Homo sapiens: one gene and its partners. The protein of the gene in region 1 purifies or fractionates together with the protein of each later gene. This does not show direct contact. Each region holds a gene or a part of one and is shown on either strand. Other genes may lie near its edges.

Region 1 (3,644 bases):
ACAATTGAGTTCTATTCAGCCATAAAAAGAATGAACTCCTGTCGTTTGCAACAATGTGGATGGAACTGGAAATCATTATGTTTAGTGAAATAAGCCGGGCACAGAAAGACAAACATCGCATGTTCTCACTTATTTGTGGGATCTAAAAATGAAAACAATGAAACTCATGGATATAGAGTAGAAGGATGGTTACCAGAGGCTGGGAAGGGTAGTCAGGGGCTTGGGGGCCGGTAGGGATGGTTAAGGGGTACAAAAAATAGAATAAATTAGACCTACCATTTGATAGCACAACAGGGTGACTACAGTCAATAACTGTACATTTTCAAATAACTTAGAGCGTAACTGGATTGTTTGCAACTCAAAGATAAATGCTTGAAGGGATGGATACCCCATTCTCCATGGCATGCTTATTTCACCTTGCATAACTTTGTCAAAACATCTCATGTACCCCATAAATATATACACCTACTATGAACCCACAAAATTAACCATAATAATAAAATTCCAAAAAAAAAGAACTTGGCCAATTATTTATTAGATGGTAGAAGCAGCCAGCTTAGCAAAGAGATGAAACAAGGAGGAACTGGTGTGAAATAAAATATGAAATCCCATCATTCCTCGTCCTTCAAATTGAAGCCAAAGAATCACACCCAGGGCAGGACAGTTTCTGAAACACTGTTTGCTCTGTATCTTCTTTACTCTCATTTCAAGCTGGCAGTTAAGCTTCACCTTCCCTCAGTCTGGGACTTTGGGGCAGGCACAGCGTGGCCCACAGAAGGTTGGGTGGTCACTGGCTCCTCTCCACCTTTGTAAAGGCCTGAGGCCTCTGAAGGAATGTTCCCTTTGGGGGTGGAGGGAGGGAGAGGAAACCTTCAAGGGGGTGAGAAGGGTGGATCCCCAGAACCCAAGAAAGCTACCCAGTTCCTATGAGCAGCAGGGACCTGAGTCCTGCTTGGTGACAAGACCTCAGAGGGGTGTGGTGCAGGCAGAACTCGAGGCTGAGGGGTTCCCTGCATCACCCAAGACACCCTGGCCCCATGCACAGGTGGAGGCTGATTATGTGGAGGGAGCGGATGGGCCAGGCAGCAGGGTCTCTCCTGAGACCACACAGACTGGCGTCCGCTATCATCAGGGGCCCTCCCCATGCTATGACCTGGGACGTTTGCAGACCCAGGTGGAATGGAGGGAGGTGGTGGTTGGGAGGACCCTAAGATGACTAAGATGTAATTTCCCACCAATCCATCAGGAAGCAGGGGGAAGGGTTGGAGTCTGAAATACACTGATATAGAACCAAAAATAATCAACCTCCACACACTCAAGTTTTGGACTGGTACTCAAAACCATGACATCCCCTTTGGCTTTGAATGAAGGTTTTTAATCTCCAGTGGAGGCCTGGGGTTGGGGTGGTATTTAACAGGACAAGAAGCCCTGACTGTGCATCTTAAGGAGCTTGGAGGTGATGAATCGGAACTGCTGGTAGGTTCTGCAGCTGCGCTAGGTTGGAAACACATATTCGATGTCACCGGGGTTGAGGTACAGATAAATCAGAAGGCAGCTCCAGAAGCCAAGGGTGAAAAGGGTGCCCAGACCTGGTGTGAATATTTCCCACTGGATGGGGAGAAAGGGCAGGACCTGAGGCAAGGTCAGTTCCGCCACTAGTGGTGCACCCTCCCCACCATGGGAGCCCCAGGCAGCAGCCTCTAGGCTGGGTGACCCAAGTCCTCCTTCCTGGTGCCACATCCTGTATGACTGAGCATGCTGGGTGGCAGCATCTGCTAACAGTCCCTACTCCTGGCACAACCTCAGGAGGGGTGTGATGTGAATGCGGCTGGGAGCACATGGCCTTGGGGACAACAAGGCACCTGATCGAGAAAAGGCACATCTTGTATGAATCTACCTACCCCGATTGTAGTTGTTCTTTAGAGCACACAACAAACATTTCTCCTGCAGAGGACAGAAACGGCACAAGAAAGATCAATTTCCCCTGGTCCAAGAAGGGCAGCCTGCTAGGCACCTTATCTGCCCTTGCTAAAGGGAAGGACAGAATAAGAGGGTGGAGCTGGCGGGTAGGCCCATCCAGGGTCAAGTCCTGCATGGTCACAGCTAAGGAGGCTCCACAGGCCTAGAAGGCAAGGCAGGTCAGGGAGGGCGCAGGCTCGGGCGGCACCCAGAAGTCAGCAGCGGGCGGACCTGTCCCTTCACTATGATACAGCACAAGCTCGGGGAAGTCACCAGGGAGCCGGAGCCAGGGGTCTGGCACCAGTGCTGGGCTCGGGCAGGGTTTCACTTACGCAGCAGGTCCCACAGTGATGAAGGGGATCCAGTGAGCCCTGTTTTGTTTTTTGTGGTGCCATCGTCTTCTTGTGAAGAGCACAGGGTGCTCCATTGACTCCACTGGCTCCATCCATTTTCTTGGGCCTGAGCTGTGGTTCTCTGTGAGTCTTTCCCATCAGCCTGAGTTCCTGCTGCTCCTTTGGTGCTCTTCTAAGGGGACTGGGGGAGGAGGGCCAGGGAGGGGCAGAGAGTTGGGGAGACATTTTGCAGCATGACAAGGAGATAACCAGTACACGGGTGGCCATGGAAGGCCTTGACTCCAAGTCACAGGGGCAGTAGGAGCAAAGACAACTCCTCCAAGAGTCTGGGTGTCCTCTGAACCCCAAAGGGATCCAACAAAGGGAAGGGAGGAGACCCTTTAGGGATGAGGAGAGACGAGTGCAGGTTACACTTACAGCTTATAGTTCTTCTGTGTATTTATTAAAATGTCCATCTTCTCATCCATATCTTTCTGCATTTCCTTCGAGAGAGAATTCAGAACTAGCATCTTCATTTTGAAGGACTTTGGAAATACCTTCCTCCTGCCTCTCTGCAAACCATTCTGCATCTTACTTCCTCAAGAATCCTCGCTAGACTTGGGTGAGGTGGCTTTTGGAGTGTCCGTGACATGTACAGCTTCTCCCCTTCCTCATCCCCCTTCCCCAATGAGACGAAAGCACAGGCAGAGACATTAGGGGACTTTTCTGAAGTCTCTAGGTGAGCCAGAGGCCAGCTACTGTTTTATCTGATCTCACACTTTGGATAAAACCAATGCTTGCCTTGGTTTGATGCCTATAAAATGATGGAACCAAGAAGACCAATCTTGTGACCCCAAAGACAATTTGACTGCAATGTTTTGACCCTTGGCATGCACCCAGATCCTGCATATTTATGTTTGCTTCATCTTTTACCTAATTCCTGGCAAAGATGGTCAACAAAAAGTAAAATGACAGCAGCTAAAGGGATACATCACACGTATTATTCGCTCAGAACAGAAGGAATAATAAAATCTTGACAAAGTTTTGATCTATAAAATGTGACCTGGGTAAATTGAATGGAAATAGTGGACATGAGAAAAATTCTAAGATGGTAGAAGCTATAACTGACAATATTTGTCACAGAGAAAAACAGGTTTGGGTTGTCATAAAACAGAAATAAAAACAATTTATTCCAATAAAATAATTTTCATTAAAAATGAAAGATTTGGTAACAGTTTAATTGATGTACTATAGAAAATTGATCAAGAAATTACACCATCTGCATAGAGATGATTTCATAAAATACCTTCTTGAAAAGCATTTTTAAATGTTAGTACAAATTTGAATAAAATA
Region 2 (3,644 bases), on another chromosome or scaffold:
CAGGAGGAGTTCGAAACCAGCCTGGGCATCATAGTGAGAGCCCATCTCTAATTAAAAAAAAAAAAAAAAAGAATTTAAAGTTAAAAAAAGAAAAGAAACTGTTTCTTCTACTTCAGAAGAAAACCATTTTTAAAAATTTGCTAAGTTAGCCACAGCCTCTGATCACTGCTAATGACTTGGGACAACCATTCTAAGACATCCTTTTGATCTCTGACTGCAGAAACAAACAGATCCACAACCCCCAACAGGTGTCGCTTCTGCTCTGTTTCTCCTTCAAATTGCTCATGCCTGTAATCCCAGCACTTTGGGAGGCCGAGGTGGACAGATCACTTGAGGTCAGGAGCTCAAGACTAGCCTGGCCAACATGGTGAAACCCCATCTCTACTAAAAATACAAAAATTAGCTGGACTTGGTGGCAGGCACCTGTAACCCCAGCTACTCAGGAGACTGAGGCAGGAGAATCGCTTGAACCTGGGAGGTGGAGATTGTAGTGAGCCGAGATCATGCCATCGCACTCCAGCCTGGGTGACAAAGCAAGACTCTGTCATACACACAAAAAAAATTCTGCCACACTAGTGCACTGGGAAGCCTGTTGTACTAGGAGTTAGCCAATGCATGTTTTAGCCTGGCTCCGCCACTAGTTGGTTCTGTTCTATTGGGAAGTATTCCCCTCCTTGCTGAGTCTTTGGGCTCTGATTTGTAAATTTGAGGGGTTGGGGTCTGATGTGACCTTGTGGTTGCTGCCAGCTCCGACACTCTAAAACCAGGATAACGTGATGAAGACGACTTTGGAACAGTATTGCTTCAAATGGTCATGTGTAACATGAAGCAAACACAGCAGCACCACCCAAAAAACAAAGCCAGAGTCTAATATTTATTCAAGCAGTAGTTTCAATACATGGAAATAAACACAGCTGGACAAAGTTTGGAAAGAATGGGGGTGGAAAATGAAAAGAAGCTGGTTGTTAGATTGGTCAGGATTGTGGTTTTTGCTCATTTTTAATTTTGATACTATTGTCATAATGATGATTATACCTTTTCAAAATTAAGTGACTTCCTAAGAAAGAATCTGAAAACGATGAAAGGGGGAAGCCAGTCATTTGCTCTGCTTTTCACTTACCGCAGTTCATCACACTGTTTGCATCACAAGTGGCCCCAGAGGTCTTCATGGTCATGATGTCCCCATAGCAGCCGTGGTACAGGCGTGGATGTAGGTGAGGCTTCATTGAGTGACTGAAGGGGTATGAGCCCCTGGAAGTGCCTAGGAGGCAGAAGTGTAACTCACATGAATCCTCTGAGAAGATATTACTTGGGTTGCTGCAATAAACATCACTAAACCAAAGGCAGAAGGCCACAGACAGAACTCCCCAACTCTCTTGTTGCCATTATTTGTTCCTCAGACAGAAGTTCCCCATGCCCACTCTGCTCCGATCTTTTGTTTTGTTTTGTATTAACACAGGACGTAATCTGAAAACTCTATGCAAAATATTATGAAATTCATCTCTTATAGATCCTAAATACATGTGCAGTCTTTTTTTTTCCTTTTTTTAAGAGACAAGGTCTTGCTCTGTTGTCCAGGCTGGAGTGCAGTGGCATGATCATAGCTCGCTGCAGGCACCAACACCTGGGCTCAAACTATCCTCCCACCCCAGCCTCCTGAGTAGCTGGAACCACAGGTGCATATCACCAGGACTGGCTTATTTTCTCTTTTTGTAGAGATGGGGTTTTGCTATGTTGCCCAAGCTAGTCTCAAACTCCTGTGCTCAAGCGATCCTCTCTCCTTGGCCTCCCAAAGTGCTGGGATTACAGGCACTGTAGTCATACCATGCTCTATGTCAGAATTAAAACTGACAGGTTTTTAAGCAGGAAACTTGAGAGTTTTTTTTTTTTTTTTAAGATTCAGGGGGTACATGTGCAGGTTTGTTACGTGGGCATATTGTGTGATGCTGAGGATTGGCCTTCTATTGATCCTTCACCCAAATAGTGAACACAGTACCTGATGTGTAGTTTTCAACCCTTGCCTCCCTACCTTCCTCCCTCCCTCCTTCCTTTTACAGTCCCCAGTGTCTATTGTTTTGAGAGGAATTTTAAAACATTTCTGACACAAATGCCTCTGGAGATGTGAACATCTAGATTAACAATTTGCCTTTCTTAAGCCAAAATTGACAAATGGGGTCTAATTAAACTAAAGAGCTTCTGCACAGCAAAAGAAACTACCATCAGAGTGAACAGGCAACCTACAAAATGGGAGAAAATTTTCGCAACCTACTCATCTGACAAAGGGCTAATATCCAGAATCTACAATGAACTCAAACAAATTTACAAGAAAAAAACAAACAACCCCATCAAAAAGTGGGCGAAGTACATGAACAGACACTTCTCAAAAGAAGACATTTATGCAGCCAAAAAACACATGAAAAAATGCTCACCATCACTGGCTATCAGAAAAATGCAAATCAAAACCACAATGAGATACCATCTCACACCAGTTAGAATGGCAATCATTAAAAAGTCAGGCAACAACAGGTGCTGGAGAGGATGTGGAGAAATAGGAACACTTTTACACTGTTGGTGGGACTGTAAACTAGTTCAACCATTGTGGAAGTCAGTGTGGCGATTCCTCAGGGATCTAGAACTAGAAATACCATTTGACCCTGCCATCCCATTACTGGGTATATACCCAAAGGACTATAAATCATGCTGCTATAAAGACACATGCACACGTATGTTTATTGCGGCACTATTCACAATAGCAAAAACTTGGAACCAACCCAAATGTCCAACAATGATAGACTGGATTAAGAAAATGTGGCACATATACACCATGGAATACTATGCAGCCATAAAAAATGATGACTTCATGTCCTTTGTAGGGACATGGATGAAATTGGAAATCATCATTCTCAGTAAACTATCACCAAGGACAAAAAACCAAACACCACATGTTCTCACTCATAGGTGGGAATTGAACAATGAGAACACATGGACACAGGAAGGGGAACATCACACTCTGGGGACTGTTGTGGGGTGGAGGGAGGGGGGAGGGATAGCATTAGGAGATATACCTAATGCTAAATGACGAGTTAATGGGTGCAGCACACCAGCATGGCACATGTATACATATGTAACTAACCTGCACATTGTGCACATGTACCCTAAAACTTAAAGTATAATAATAATAAAATAAAATAAAATAAAATAAAAATAAATAAATAAAATTCAAAAAAAACCAATTTGCCTTTGTTTAGAAAGATAAGAAAGAAGGGCACCATAACAATTTAAATATATTCTTATTATATATCATTTACTGTGAAGTTGAGTTCCTATGTATATTTAATAAAATTAGAAGTAAAAATTGAATTTGCCAAAATAATTTAAGTCAAATCTATTCTTGTCTTTTTGTTCTGTCATTAAAAAGTGAATTTCTGTCCAAGTCTACCTGTTACAGGAGAGGCAGAGCTTTTGCTAAAGGAGATACAAAGTTATTTTCTGTAATGTTGAAAAGTTTGTTCTAACGGTTTCAAGGACTGTTAACTTGTACCTTAAGAGTCCAAATATTTGTTATAAGACAGTACTTAGGGCTGGATGTTGTGGCTTATGCCTAGAATCCCAGCACTTTGAGAGGCTGAGGCAGGACGATTGCT
Region 3 (2,967 bases), on another chromosome or scaffold:
CTCATCCTCCATCTCAGCAGCCTCGTCTTCGTCTGACACCACAGTGGCCTCAGGGCCACCCTCCCCTCCAGGGGGCAGGAGCCCCCCGAGCTTCTTCCCCTTCAGCAGGATCTTCCCCTTCAGTTGCTAGGTGGGGAGGGGCAACTGGTCAAGACACACCTAGCGCCCCGGCTAGGCTCCCCACCCTCCCCCAGGGATCCCCCATCCCCACCACACACCTCAGGGGAGGGCAGGCTGTTGGTGACCCCATCCAGTGGTCGGTTCAACAGCATGGGGCCCAGGATGGCATGCAGGTGCCGCGCCATCACGCGCTGCTGCTCCAGTGTGCAGTGGTTCTCCAGGGATAGGATGACAGGGTAGGGGGACGCCTGGAGGCCCAAGGGCACATTAGGAGTGGTGGGCCACCCCTAGCATCCCACTCCTCACCTGCCAGGGGCACTCCCACCTTGAAGGCATAGTCCCGGATGGCCCTGAGCACATCGCAGAAGAGGATCTTGGAAGTGAAAGTATAGCCGTGGTAGATGATTGGTTCCTGGTTGGGCCCGTCCCAGCAGTCAAGCTCCAGGCATCGGCAGCCTTTGCACAGTGCCCTGCGGGGAGGGTGGTGGCTAGGACCCTCCAGGTCCTGTCCCGGGTCCCACCCAGACTCCCGACCCAAGGCTCCCTGAGCAGCACCGGATGTAGGCTTCAGTGCTGCTGGGCCCGGCTAGCTGGTCCTCCAGCAGGTAGGTGTTGTGTGAAGAGGACACCAGGTAGTGGCTAAGTGGCTGGCCCATGTCCTGGTAGACACGGCGGTGTGCCAGGCTGAAGGCGCTGCCGTCAGCCGACAGTAAGTACATGAGGAAGCCGTCCTTGGTCATCTGCCGCTGCGCCTTGGCTGGGAGGGAGGAGGCCACTGCCCGTCAGAGCCAGCCTCCAGCAGGCGCTCCTGGCTGCCCACCCATCTGGACAGAGGAGCCCTCTGAACCCGCTTGCCTGCCTGTCCTGAGCCAGTCTTCCAGAGCTCTTGGAATTAGGATAAGTCTGAGGCTCTCGACCAGACTGTGGCTACTCCAGAGTGGGGCCCTGTCTCCTCCTCCTCCCCTGTCTGCACACTCTAAGACCCCTGAGGACAGGGTGTCATCTCCCCGTTCTCTGTACCTCCAGACTGGAGCCCCCTCCAGGGCAGGGACCCATCTTCTCTGCTCTATCACATCTCAAAGCTGGGCCAAGAATGAGTAAAAAAAAAAGAAGCAGGAGTAGCATCTGCTTTTCAGCCATCTCTCTTGTTTCTTGAAGAAGGGGTCCTCAAAGCCCCCTGAAGGAGGTGCCAAGAGGGAAACAGGACCAGAGAAGGGTAGGGATGCCAGAGCCCTGTCTCTCATCTGCCGGCTTTCATAGGACCAGAAAGTGTGGAGCAGGGCCCCGGGGCTGGCTGAGGCAGCCCCTTCCCTCCGGTTCCCTTCTTTCTGGCTGCAGTCTCCCCAGGGGTCTCCCAGCCCAGTGCGGCCCTGCGACTGCAGGTAGCAGGCCCTGGTCAGGCTCTCACCAGTCTCGCTGGGCTCGTAGCGCTCAATGAGGGAGAGGGCCAGCGCAGGCCCTGCCGCCTCCTCCCGCTGCTGGTGCTGCAGGAACGTCACTAACTGATCCACCGACAGAGTCTCCCCTGAGCCCGCGGCCTCGGCGAAGGTGCGGTCGATCTCCACCCGCTGGGTCAGCATCTTGTAGAAGGCCTCAATCTCCTCGTCCTCCAGGGAGTCTGTCTGGGAGTGGTCACACTCCTGCAGAGCCAGGACAGCCGAGTGGGCTCAGAGCAGGCCTTGGGCCGGGGTCAAGGGCCCCATGGACAGGCAGCCCCAGCCCCCACTTCCTGCCTCACCCTGAAGATCTTCCGGGCATAGCTGTCGTCCACCTGGATGTTGAGCTCCTTCAGGAAGTTCTGCAGCTCCTTGAAGCTCATCTTGTTGTCCTTGTTTTTGTCAGCTTTTCGCAAGCAGGAGTGAATCCAGCTGGGCAAGAAGTAAGGAAAGAACCCAGGAACCCTGGAACCTACCAAGGTCCCAGCCAGAGCCATGGATGGCTCCAGCTGAAGCCACCTATAGCCACAGCTCCCTGCAGGCCTGACTTACTACACATCCATGTTTCAGTGGCCTCTTCAGAGGAAAATGTTAAGGGGTCTTTTTCTATTTGCTGGTTTTCAAACCTTTCAAAATTTTTAAAACATTTCTTTTCTTACTACAAAAGGGCCCACTGTAGACAATTTAGAAAATGCAGAAAAGTAAACAATCAAACAAATCTCCCGTAGTCTATCACCTAGGGATAAATACTATCAACATTCCAAAGTATATCCTTCTGGTTTTCCTTTTCTTTTTTTTTTTTTTTTGACAAGATCTCACTCTGTCGCCCAGATTAGAGTGCAGTGGCACAATCACAGCTCATTGCAGCCTAGACCTCTCAGGCTCAAGTGATCCTCCCACTACAGGTGTGCACCGCACCACCACGCCTGGCTTTTTTTTTTTTTTTTGGGTAGAGACAGGGTCTCCCTATGTTGCCCAGGCTAGTCTCAAACTCCTAGGCCCAAGCAATCCTCCTGCTTTGACCTCCCAAAGTGCTGGGATTACAGATATGAGCCATCTGGACTGGTTTTCAACATATAATATATAATAATAAATATCCAACACTAAAGAAATGGATATTCCACCTGCTGAATAGCCTTCAGCACACGAATCTCGTGCTTGGCTGGACCATTCTAAACTTGACTTTTTTCACCTGGCTTTCTGTCATAATTATTCTTTTCCACATCTATACCCATATATATACAATTTGGAAAACATATATATGTTAGAATGAAGTTTTTTTTTTTTTTTTTGGAGACGGAGTCTTGCTCTGTTGCCCAGGCTAGAGTACACTGGCGCGATCTCGGCTCACTGCAACCTCTGCCCTCTGGATTCAAGCAATTCTCCTGCCCTAGCCTCCTGAGGAGCTGGG
Region 4 (2,462 bases), about 160 Mb from region 1:
CCGTGTCAGTGTCTCTGTGCATGGCCATACTCATCTTTGTCCCCAGGAACAGAGAAGCAAAGGAAGCCAAGCTGGAAGAAGAGGGAGAAGAAGTAGGAGGTGGAGAGGGTGAGAGAAAGAGAGAGAATGAATGATGTAGACACAGAAACAGAGAGGGTTCCAGGCTCTGCTGCAGCTATCCTGCCCTCAGGTTTCTGGTGTCCTTATATTAAGACTCCCTCTGGCTGAAGCTGGCTTCAGTAGGACTCTGTCTCTTGCGAACACAAGAACCTGAATCATTGCACAAACTTCTTGGGGCACATATATAATTACAAGATAGCCTCGAACAGGAAGGAAGGGGAGTGAAAAGAGGCTTTGCAAGCGGAGGGCAAAATGTTGCCTGAAAAGAGGAAGGAAAAAGCGGGGCATGAAGCAATGGTGGTGTGGACAGGTTCCCCACAAGGCTCTGACAATGGGCAAATTGAGTTCTTTTAGGGGATGAGGTGGGGAGGAGTGGAGAGGGGAGCTGGGTGACCTATAGCAGTGCTACTCAAACTGTGTTCCTCTAAAAGGCAGCATCAGCACCACCTGGGTGTTTGTTAGCGCGGCAGCAGTGCCTCGGGCCGTGCTTTAGACCTGCTGAATCAGGACCGCTGGGGTGGGGCCCCACCTGTCCAGGTGTTTCAAAGGCAAGCTCAAGATTTAGAAGCAGGCCAAGCACGGTGGCTTCCGCCTGTAATCCCAGCACTTTGGGAGGCCGAGGCTGGTGGATCACCGGAGGTCAGGAGCTCAAGACCAGCCTGGCCAACATGGCAAAACTCCATCTCTACTAAAAATACAGAAATTAGCCGGGCGTGGTGGTGCACGCCTGCAATCCCACAATCCCAGCTACTCAGGAGGCTGAGGCAGGAGAATCGCTTGAACCCTGGAGGCTGAGGTTGCAGTGAGTGAGATTGTGCCACTGCCCTCCAGCCTGGGCAACAGAGTGAGACTCCGTCTCAAAAAAAAAAAAAGAAAAAAAGAAAAAAAGATTTACAAGCATCAGAGGCAAAGCCCTCAAGGCTCAGTCAAAAGCCACTTCTTCCATGAAGACTTCCTGGATCTCCAGTTCTACCTCTTAGGCTGGAAGTGCTTTGTCTCACCTCCAAACTGCCACATCGCCTTATCCTACAAAATAGATCACTGGGACATGTCCTCAGAGAAGGGAAGAGTTTCCCTCTCAACCGATTAGACTGAAAGTCCCTTGAGAGCAGGGGGCATTCTTAATCATCTCTGCATCTGCCACAGGACACCCTAAATACATGTGGGATGGATGAAGAGCCACAAGCTGGGAGGAAGAGAGCAGAATGAGCATCTGGGTTCCCAGCTGATGCCATGTGCTTTGCACACGTGACCTCATGCAATCATTCATTCACTCCACAAATGTCAAGTGGACCCCTTCCCTGATGCCCCTTGGGCCAGGGCTTGGCCAGCAAGCATTCCACAGGGACCATGGTGGTCAGCCAGCTAGAAGCCCTTCTGAGGAGCACCATAGGACCCCTGATTCTCCCTGCCACCCCCACTGGCCACCACAATCCTAAATATGACTGTGACCAGACATTTTTCCTCTCTCGAGCTTAGAGGTTTGCAGCCTGATTTGGCAAAGGAGTCATGGGTAGTGCCCTCACCAAGTCAGGGAAGAAGGCCGTTGCTTTTTTCCTCTCGGTCTTGAAGAGCTGTGGGATGTCAATGATGTCACACTCTGCCAGGCCCAGCTCCCGCTTCAGCACCTCACGGTTCCAGTCGATGCAGCTCTGGGGGCAGGGGAGGGCCAGAGTTGGGGACACCTTGCCAGTGTGTTTTGGGGGCACCAAGGCATCCTGTCGCTCCCCTCACTTCTTCTGGGTCAAAAGAGGGTGTTGGGACCCCTCTGTCTGGGCCTGTTCTAACCTGAGCTTTCATGAACAGTTAGCCTCAGATGTCTGTATCCCATCCTTGCCTCCAGCCCCGCCTACTCCCAAATCACAGCCCACAGGTACACCACAGCCCTTGTACCTGCACAAACTTATTGTAGTTGATGAGGTCTTTATTGGAGAGCACCTGGTTGATGGAGATGGTCTTGACCTGCTCATCATCTGTGAAGGAGAGAGATGAAAGAGAAGGACAGGGACAGCACCAACGTGAGGACCACCTGCTTAGGGAAGCAGACAGGCAGGAGCCAAGTTCACAGCTAATGGTCTTGCCGAGTCAGCAGCCTCTGACTTTCCCAGGCCTTGGGTGGGTTCCACCTGTCTGAGCTTGCCTTGGCCACTGTGCACATCTTGGGGTATAAGGAGTGGGAGGGTCTGGTTGCCACAGTGGAATGAACTGAGACCTTTATTTGAGTTCACTGGAAGTGGTAACGCCTGTCACTGGAAATGTACAACTGCCCGAGGGCACTGGATGAGGAATCCTCTTGCTTTGGCTTAGCGGGGAGCTGGGTCAGTTGCTGCCCACCCACCCAC
Region 5 (3,644 bases), on another chromosome or scaffold:
TGCAGCACTATTCACAATAGCAAAGACTTGGAACCAATCCAAATGTCCATCAATGACAGACTGGATTAAGAAAATGTGGCACATATACACCATGGAATACTATGCAGCCATAAAAAAGGATGAGTTAATGTCCTTGGCAGGGACATGGATGAAGCTGGAAACCATCATTCTCGCCAAACTATCACAAGGACAGAAATCAAACACCGCATGTTCTCACTCATAGGTGGGAATTGAACAATGAGAACACTTGGACACAGGGCAGGGAACATAACACACTGGGACCTGTTGGAGGTTGGGGGCTGGGGAAGGGATAGCATTAGGAGAAATACCTAATGTAAATGACGAGTTGATGGGTGCAGGAAACCAACATGGCACATATATACCTATGTAACAAACCTGCACGTTGTGCACATGTACCCTAGAACTTAAAGTATAATAAAAAAAATACAGTTAATCAAAATTAATACCTCTAGGAATACAAATTATAAATACACATATTTCCATGGAAAAATTATAAAATAAGTCACCAATGCTAAAACACCAGAAATAGTTGCTATTAGAAAACTTTACCAAATTGTCAAAAATGAGATAATCTAAGTGCTACAGAAGTTGCTGTTTATATTGCTCCAAAACATAGAAAAAGAAAATGAAAAATTACAAACCATCTCCCTATGAATACTGATGACAACATTCTAATAAATTTTAATTAGAATATTAAATAAAATATTAGCAAACTAAATCTGACTAGATACTGAAAAATATTATCACCAAGTGGATTTATTCTAGTAATTCAAATATCATTAATTATTATGAAATCCATTATGGAAACCCATACCACTACCACATGAGTTTCTGATTGACCCTCCCTAGAAAGGAGCGTGCCCATCAGCATCCTACTGAATATCATTGAATATCATAGCAAATGAGGAACACATACACATGAACACAGGATAATAATGATAATATTAATGGCAACAATTGAGAAACATTTAATTTAAATGCAAAGTGACTGTACCACTTTATATACTCTTTAATCTTAACAAAATCTGTAAGATAAGTATTATCATCATCCCCATTTTATAGAGGGAAACTGACACTCAGAAATTAAGACATTTCAAGGTCCCTCAGTTAAATATATAATACAATAGCAGTCAGGCAGGGTGGCTCACGCCTGTAATCCCAGCACCTTAGAAGGCTGAGGTGAGAGGATGGCTTGAGCTCAAGAGTTCAAGACCAGCCTGAGCAACATAGTGAGACTGTCTCTACAAAAAAAAAAAAAAAAAAAAAAATTTAATTAGCTGGGCATACTGGCATATGCCTGCAGTCCCAGATATTCGGGAGGCTGAGGCAGGAGGATCACTTGAGCCCAGGAGTTTGAGAGTGCAGTCAGCTATGATCACACCACTGCACTCCAGCCTGGGCAACAGAACAAGACCTTGTCTCAAAAAAAAAAAAAAAAAAATTAAAAAGATTGATAGAATAAAACAAAAAGCTATTTAAAGGAAAAATAGATTACTTTTCTCACATAACCATTTAAAAATATGTACATTTTAAGAAAGGAAAGACTAATATTTAAATGAGATAAAAATCTGAGAGAGTGCTAGAGATGTACTGTTCAGGCAGGACAAAAGGAGTCTCTCATAGATTGATTCAACAGTCTCAGAGATCCACAGGAAAGCAGGTGACATAGTGGGAAGAGCACCAAACTGGAAGCCAAGGAACTGAGTTTTCCGTCCTGGCTCAATAAGAAGCTGCATCATAGTGAGTAAGTCACCTTAAAGCGTCAGTTTCCTCATCTTAAAATGAAGACTAACAAGGACCATTCTAATGCCCCCTACTCTACAGCTGTTGACATTAAAGGAATAATCTGGAAATGTAAATGGAAGGGCATCTCACCCACAGTTGTAGGCTTTTGGTAGCTCAAAGGTTGGGAACTACAGGGCAAGAAAGCCAGTAAGTAGCCATGCTTAAGCTAAATGAAGAAAGATGGGTACTCCCCTCTATTAGGCTCACTGAGGACAGAAATGGGCAAATGTATAGATAAAAATTAATAAAGGGGAAAATATTCATAGTCATAGTCATAAATCTATGTATGTATATGTATATATACATATGTATACGTGTATGTATATATACATATGTACACGTGTATGTATATATACATATGTACACGTGTATGTATATATACATATGTACACGTGTATGTATATATACATATGTACACGTGTATGTATATATACATATGTACACGTGTATGTATATATACATATGTACACGTGTATGTATATATACATATGTACACGTGTATGTATATATACATATGTACACGTGTATGTATATATACATATGTATACGTGTATGTATATATATACATATGTATACGTGTATGTATATGTATACATATATGTAAAGATTAATAAAGGGGAATAGTCATATTCATAGTCATAAATTCATGTAAGGAATATGTATGACTGTTGGACAATGTTCTTGCTGTTATTTTATAAGGCACCAAAATAATGAATAGCAACTAAGGAAAAGAATAAAACACAGAGCTTCATGCCAAGGCCAGGGATTCCATAAAACACTAAGGCAAATAAAACAATTCCTCAGTCTATGCTGGTCACAGCTTTCACAAACCCTGCCACAGGACCTTAACACTTATGTGTTGAAGTGGCACTCAGAATTAAGTAAGTTTTATTTTCTCCAAGTCTTCACTGTTATCAATGATTATTCTTATAACAACCACCTGGTGTTCAGCATTATGCTAGGAACTATAAAAATATAAAAAGAATTATAAAGCATGTCCCTAGCCACCGAAAACAGAACAATATGCACAGGAAAATAAGCAAAATAACTGAAGACAGTGAGTGCATGCCTGTGTATATATGCATATATGCCATCTACTTTGGAATTTAAATCACATTTTCCCACAGAAACACAGAGAAGGTGGTTAGGTTTCAGTTGAGGTGACTCCTCAAACTTATTTCATGCTTATTTAGTTAAGCCTCAGTAGCTGTCCTTAATTCCTTAAATCTCAAAGTGATTTTCAACCAAGTTGAGGGGCTAATGGGTAGTGCTGTATAGCTGGAAATAACACATTCGATATTATGACATAATTTTACAATTAGAAAATGAACAACTATTTTTCATGATGCAGAAGCCACTATTTTAATTAAATGAATTTGTAAGTGGTAGCTATAACATACATACACAGCGTGACCTGCCAAACACTGCTCCAATATCTTTACACATAACTTACTTTTCGTTATTTAACTCACTTTATTTATTTATTTATTTATTTATTTATTTAATGTTATTTATTTTGAGACGGAGTTTCACTATTGTCGCCCAGGATGGAGTGCAGTGGCGCGATCTCACTACAATCTCTGCCTCCTGGGTTCAAGCGATTCTCCTGCCTGAGCCTCCCCAGTAGCTGGGATTACTGGTACCCGCTGCCACGACTGGCTAATTTTTGGTATTTTTAGTAGAGACAGGGGTTTCACCATGTTGGCCAGGCTGGTCTCAAACTCCTGACTCCAAGTGATCCACTCGCCTTGGCCTCCCAAAGTGCTGGGATTACAGGCATGAGCCACTGCGCCCGGCCTAACTCACTTTATTCTTAAAACAACCGCAAGAGGGAGTAC

What was found.
Region 2: the proteins of TEX35 (region 1) and LYG2 purify together in Homo sapiens (affinity purification with mass spectrometry; 3 studies listed by BioGRID and IntAct, with this or other methods). This does not show direct contact.
Region 3: the proteins of TEX35 (region 1) and PLCD1 purify together in Homo sapiens (affinity purification with mass spectrometry; 3 studies listed by BioGRID and IntAct, with this or other methods). This does not show direct contact.
Region 4: the proteins of TEX35 (region 1) and PADI3 purify together in Homo sapiens (affinity purification with mass spectrometry; 2 studies listed by BioGRID and IntAct, with this or other methods). This does not show direct contact.
Region 5: the proteins of TEX35 (region 1) and GOLGB1 purify together in Homo sapiens (affinity purification with mass spectrometry; 3 studies listed by BioGRID and IntAct, with this or other methods). This does not show direct contact.

Annotation. Positions count from the first base shown.
Region 1 is NC_000001.11:178,519,522-178,523,165, reverse strand, and holds the end of TEX35 (testis-expressed protein 35), read right to left. Parts: intron 2,795-3,644; coding exon 2,730-2,794; intron 2,494-2,729; coding exon 2,292-2,493; intron 1,945-2,291; coding exon 1,902-1,944; intron 1,495-1,901; coding exon of another isoform or gene 1,442-1,494; exon of another isoform or gene 1,354-1,441; intron 842-1,353; coding exon 726-841; 3' UTR 516-725; downstream 1-515.
Region 2 is NC_000002.12:99,245,560-99,249,203, forward strand, and holds part of LYG2 (lysozyme g-like protein 2 precursor), read right to left. Parts: intron 1,262-3,644; coding exon 1,121-1,261; intron 1-1,120. UniProt on the Homo sapiens protein: May act as a potent antibacterial protein that may play a role in the innate immunity.
Region 3 is NC_000003.12:38,009,686-38,012,652, forward strand, and holds part of PLCD1 (1-phosphatidylinositol 4,5-bisphosphate phosphodiesterase delta-1), read right to left. Parts: intron 1,989-2,967; coding exon 1,859-1,988; intron 1,761-1,858; coding exon 1,529-1,760; intron 878-1,528; coding exon 676-877; intron 591-675; coding exon 446-590; exon of another isoform or gene 369-445; coding exon 219-368; intron 127-218; coding exon 1-126. UniProt on the Homo sapiens protein: The production of the second messenger molecules diacylglycerol (DAG) and inositol 1,4,5-trisphosphate (IP3) is mediated by activated phosphatidylinositol-specific phospholipase C enzymes. Essential for trophoblast and placental development.
Region 4 is NC_000001.11:17,279,981-17,282,442, reverse strand, and holds part of PADI3 (protein-arginine deiminase type-3), read right to left. Parts: intron 2,094-2,462; coding exon 2,014-2,093; intron 1,773-2,013; coding exon 1,647-1,772; intron 1-1,646. UniProt on the Homo sapiens protein: Catalyzes the deimination of arginine residues of proteins.
Region 5 is NC_000003.12:121,743,176-121,746,819, forward strand, and holds part of GOLGB1 (golgin subfamily B member 1), read right to left. Parts: intron 1-3,644. UniProt on the Homo sapiens protein: May participate in forming intercisternal cross-bridges of the Golgi complex.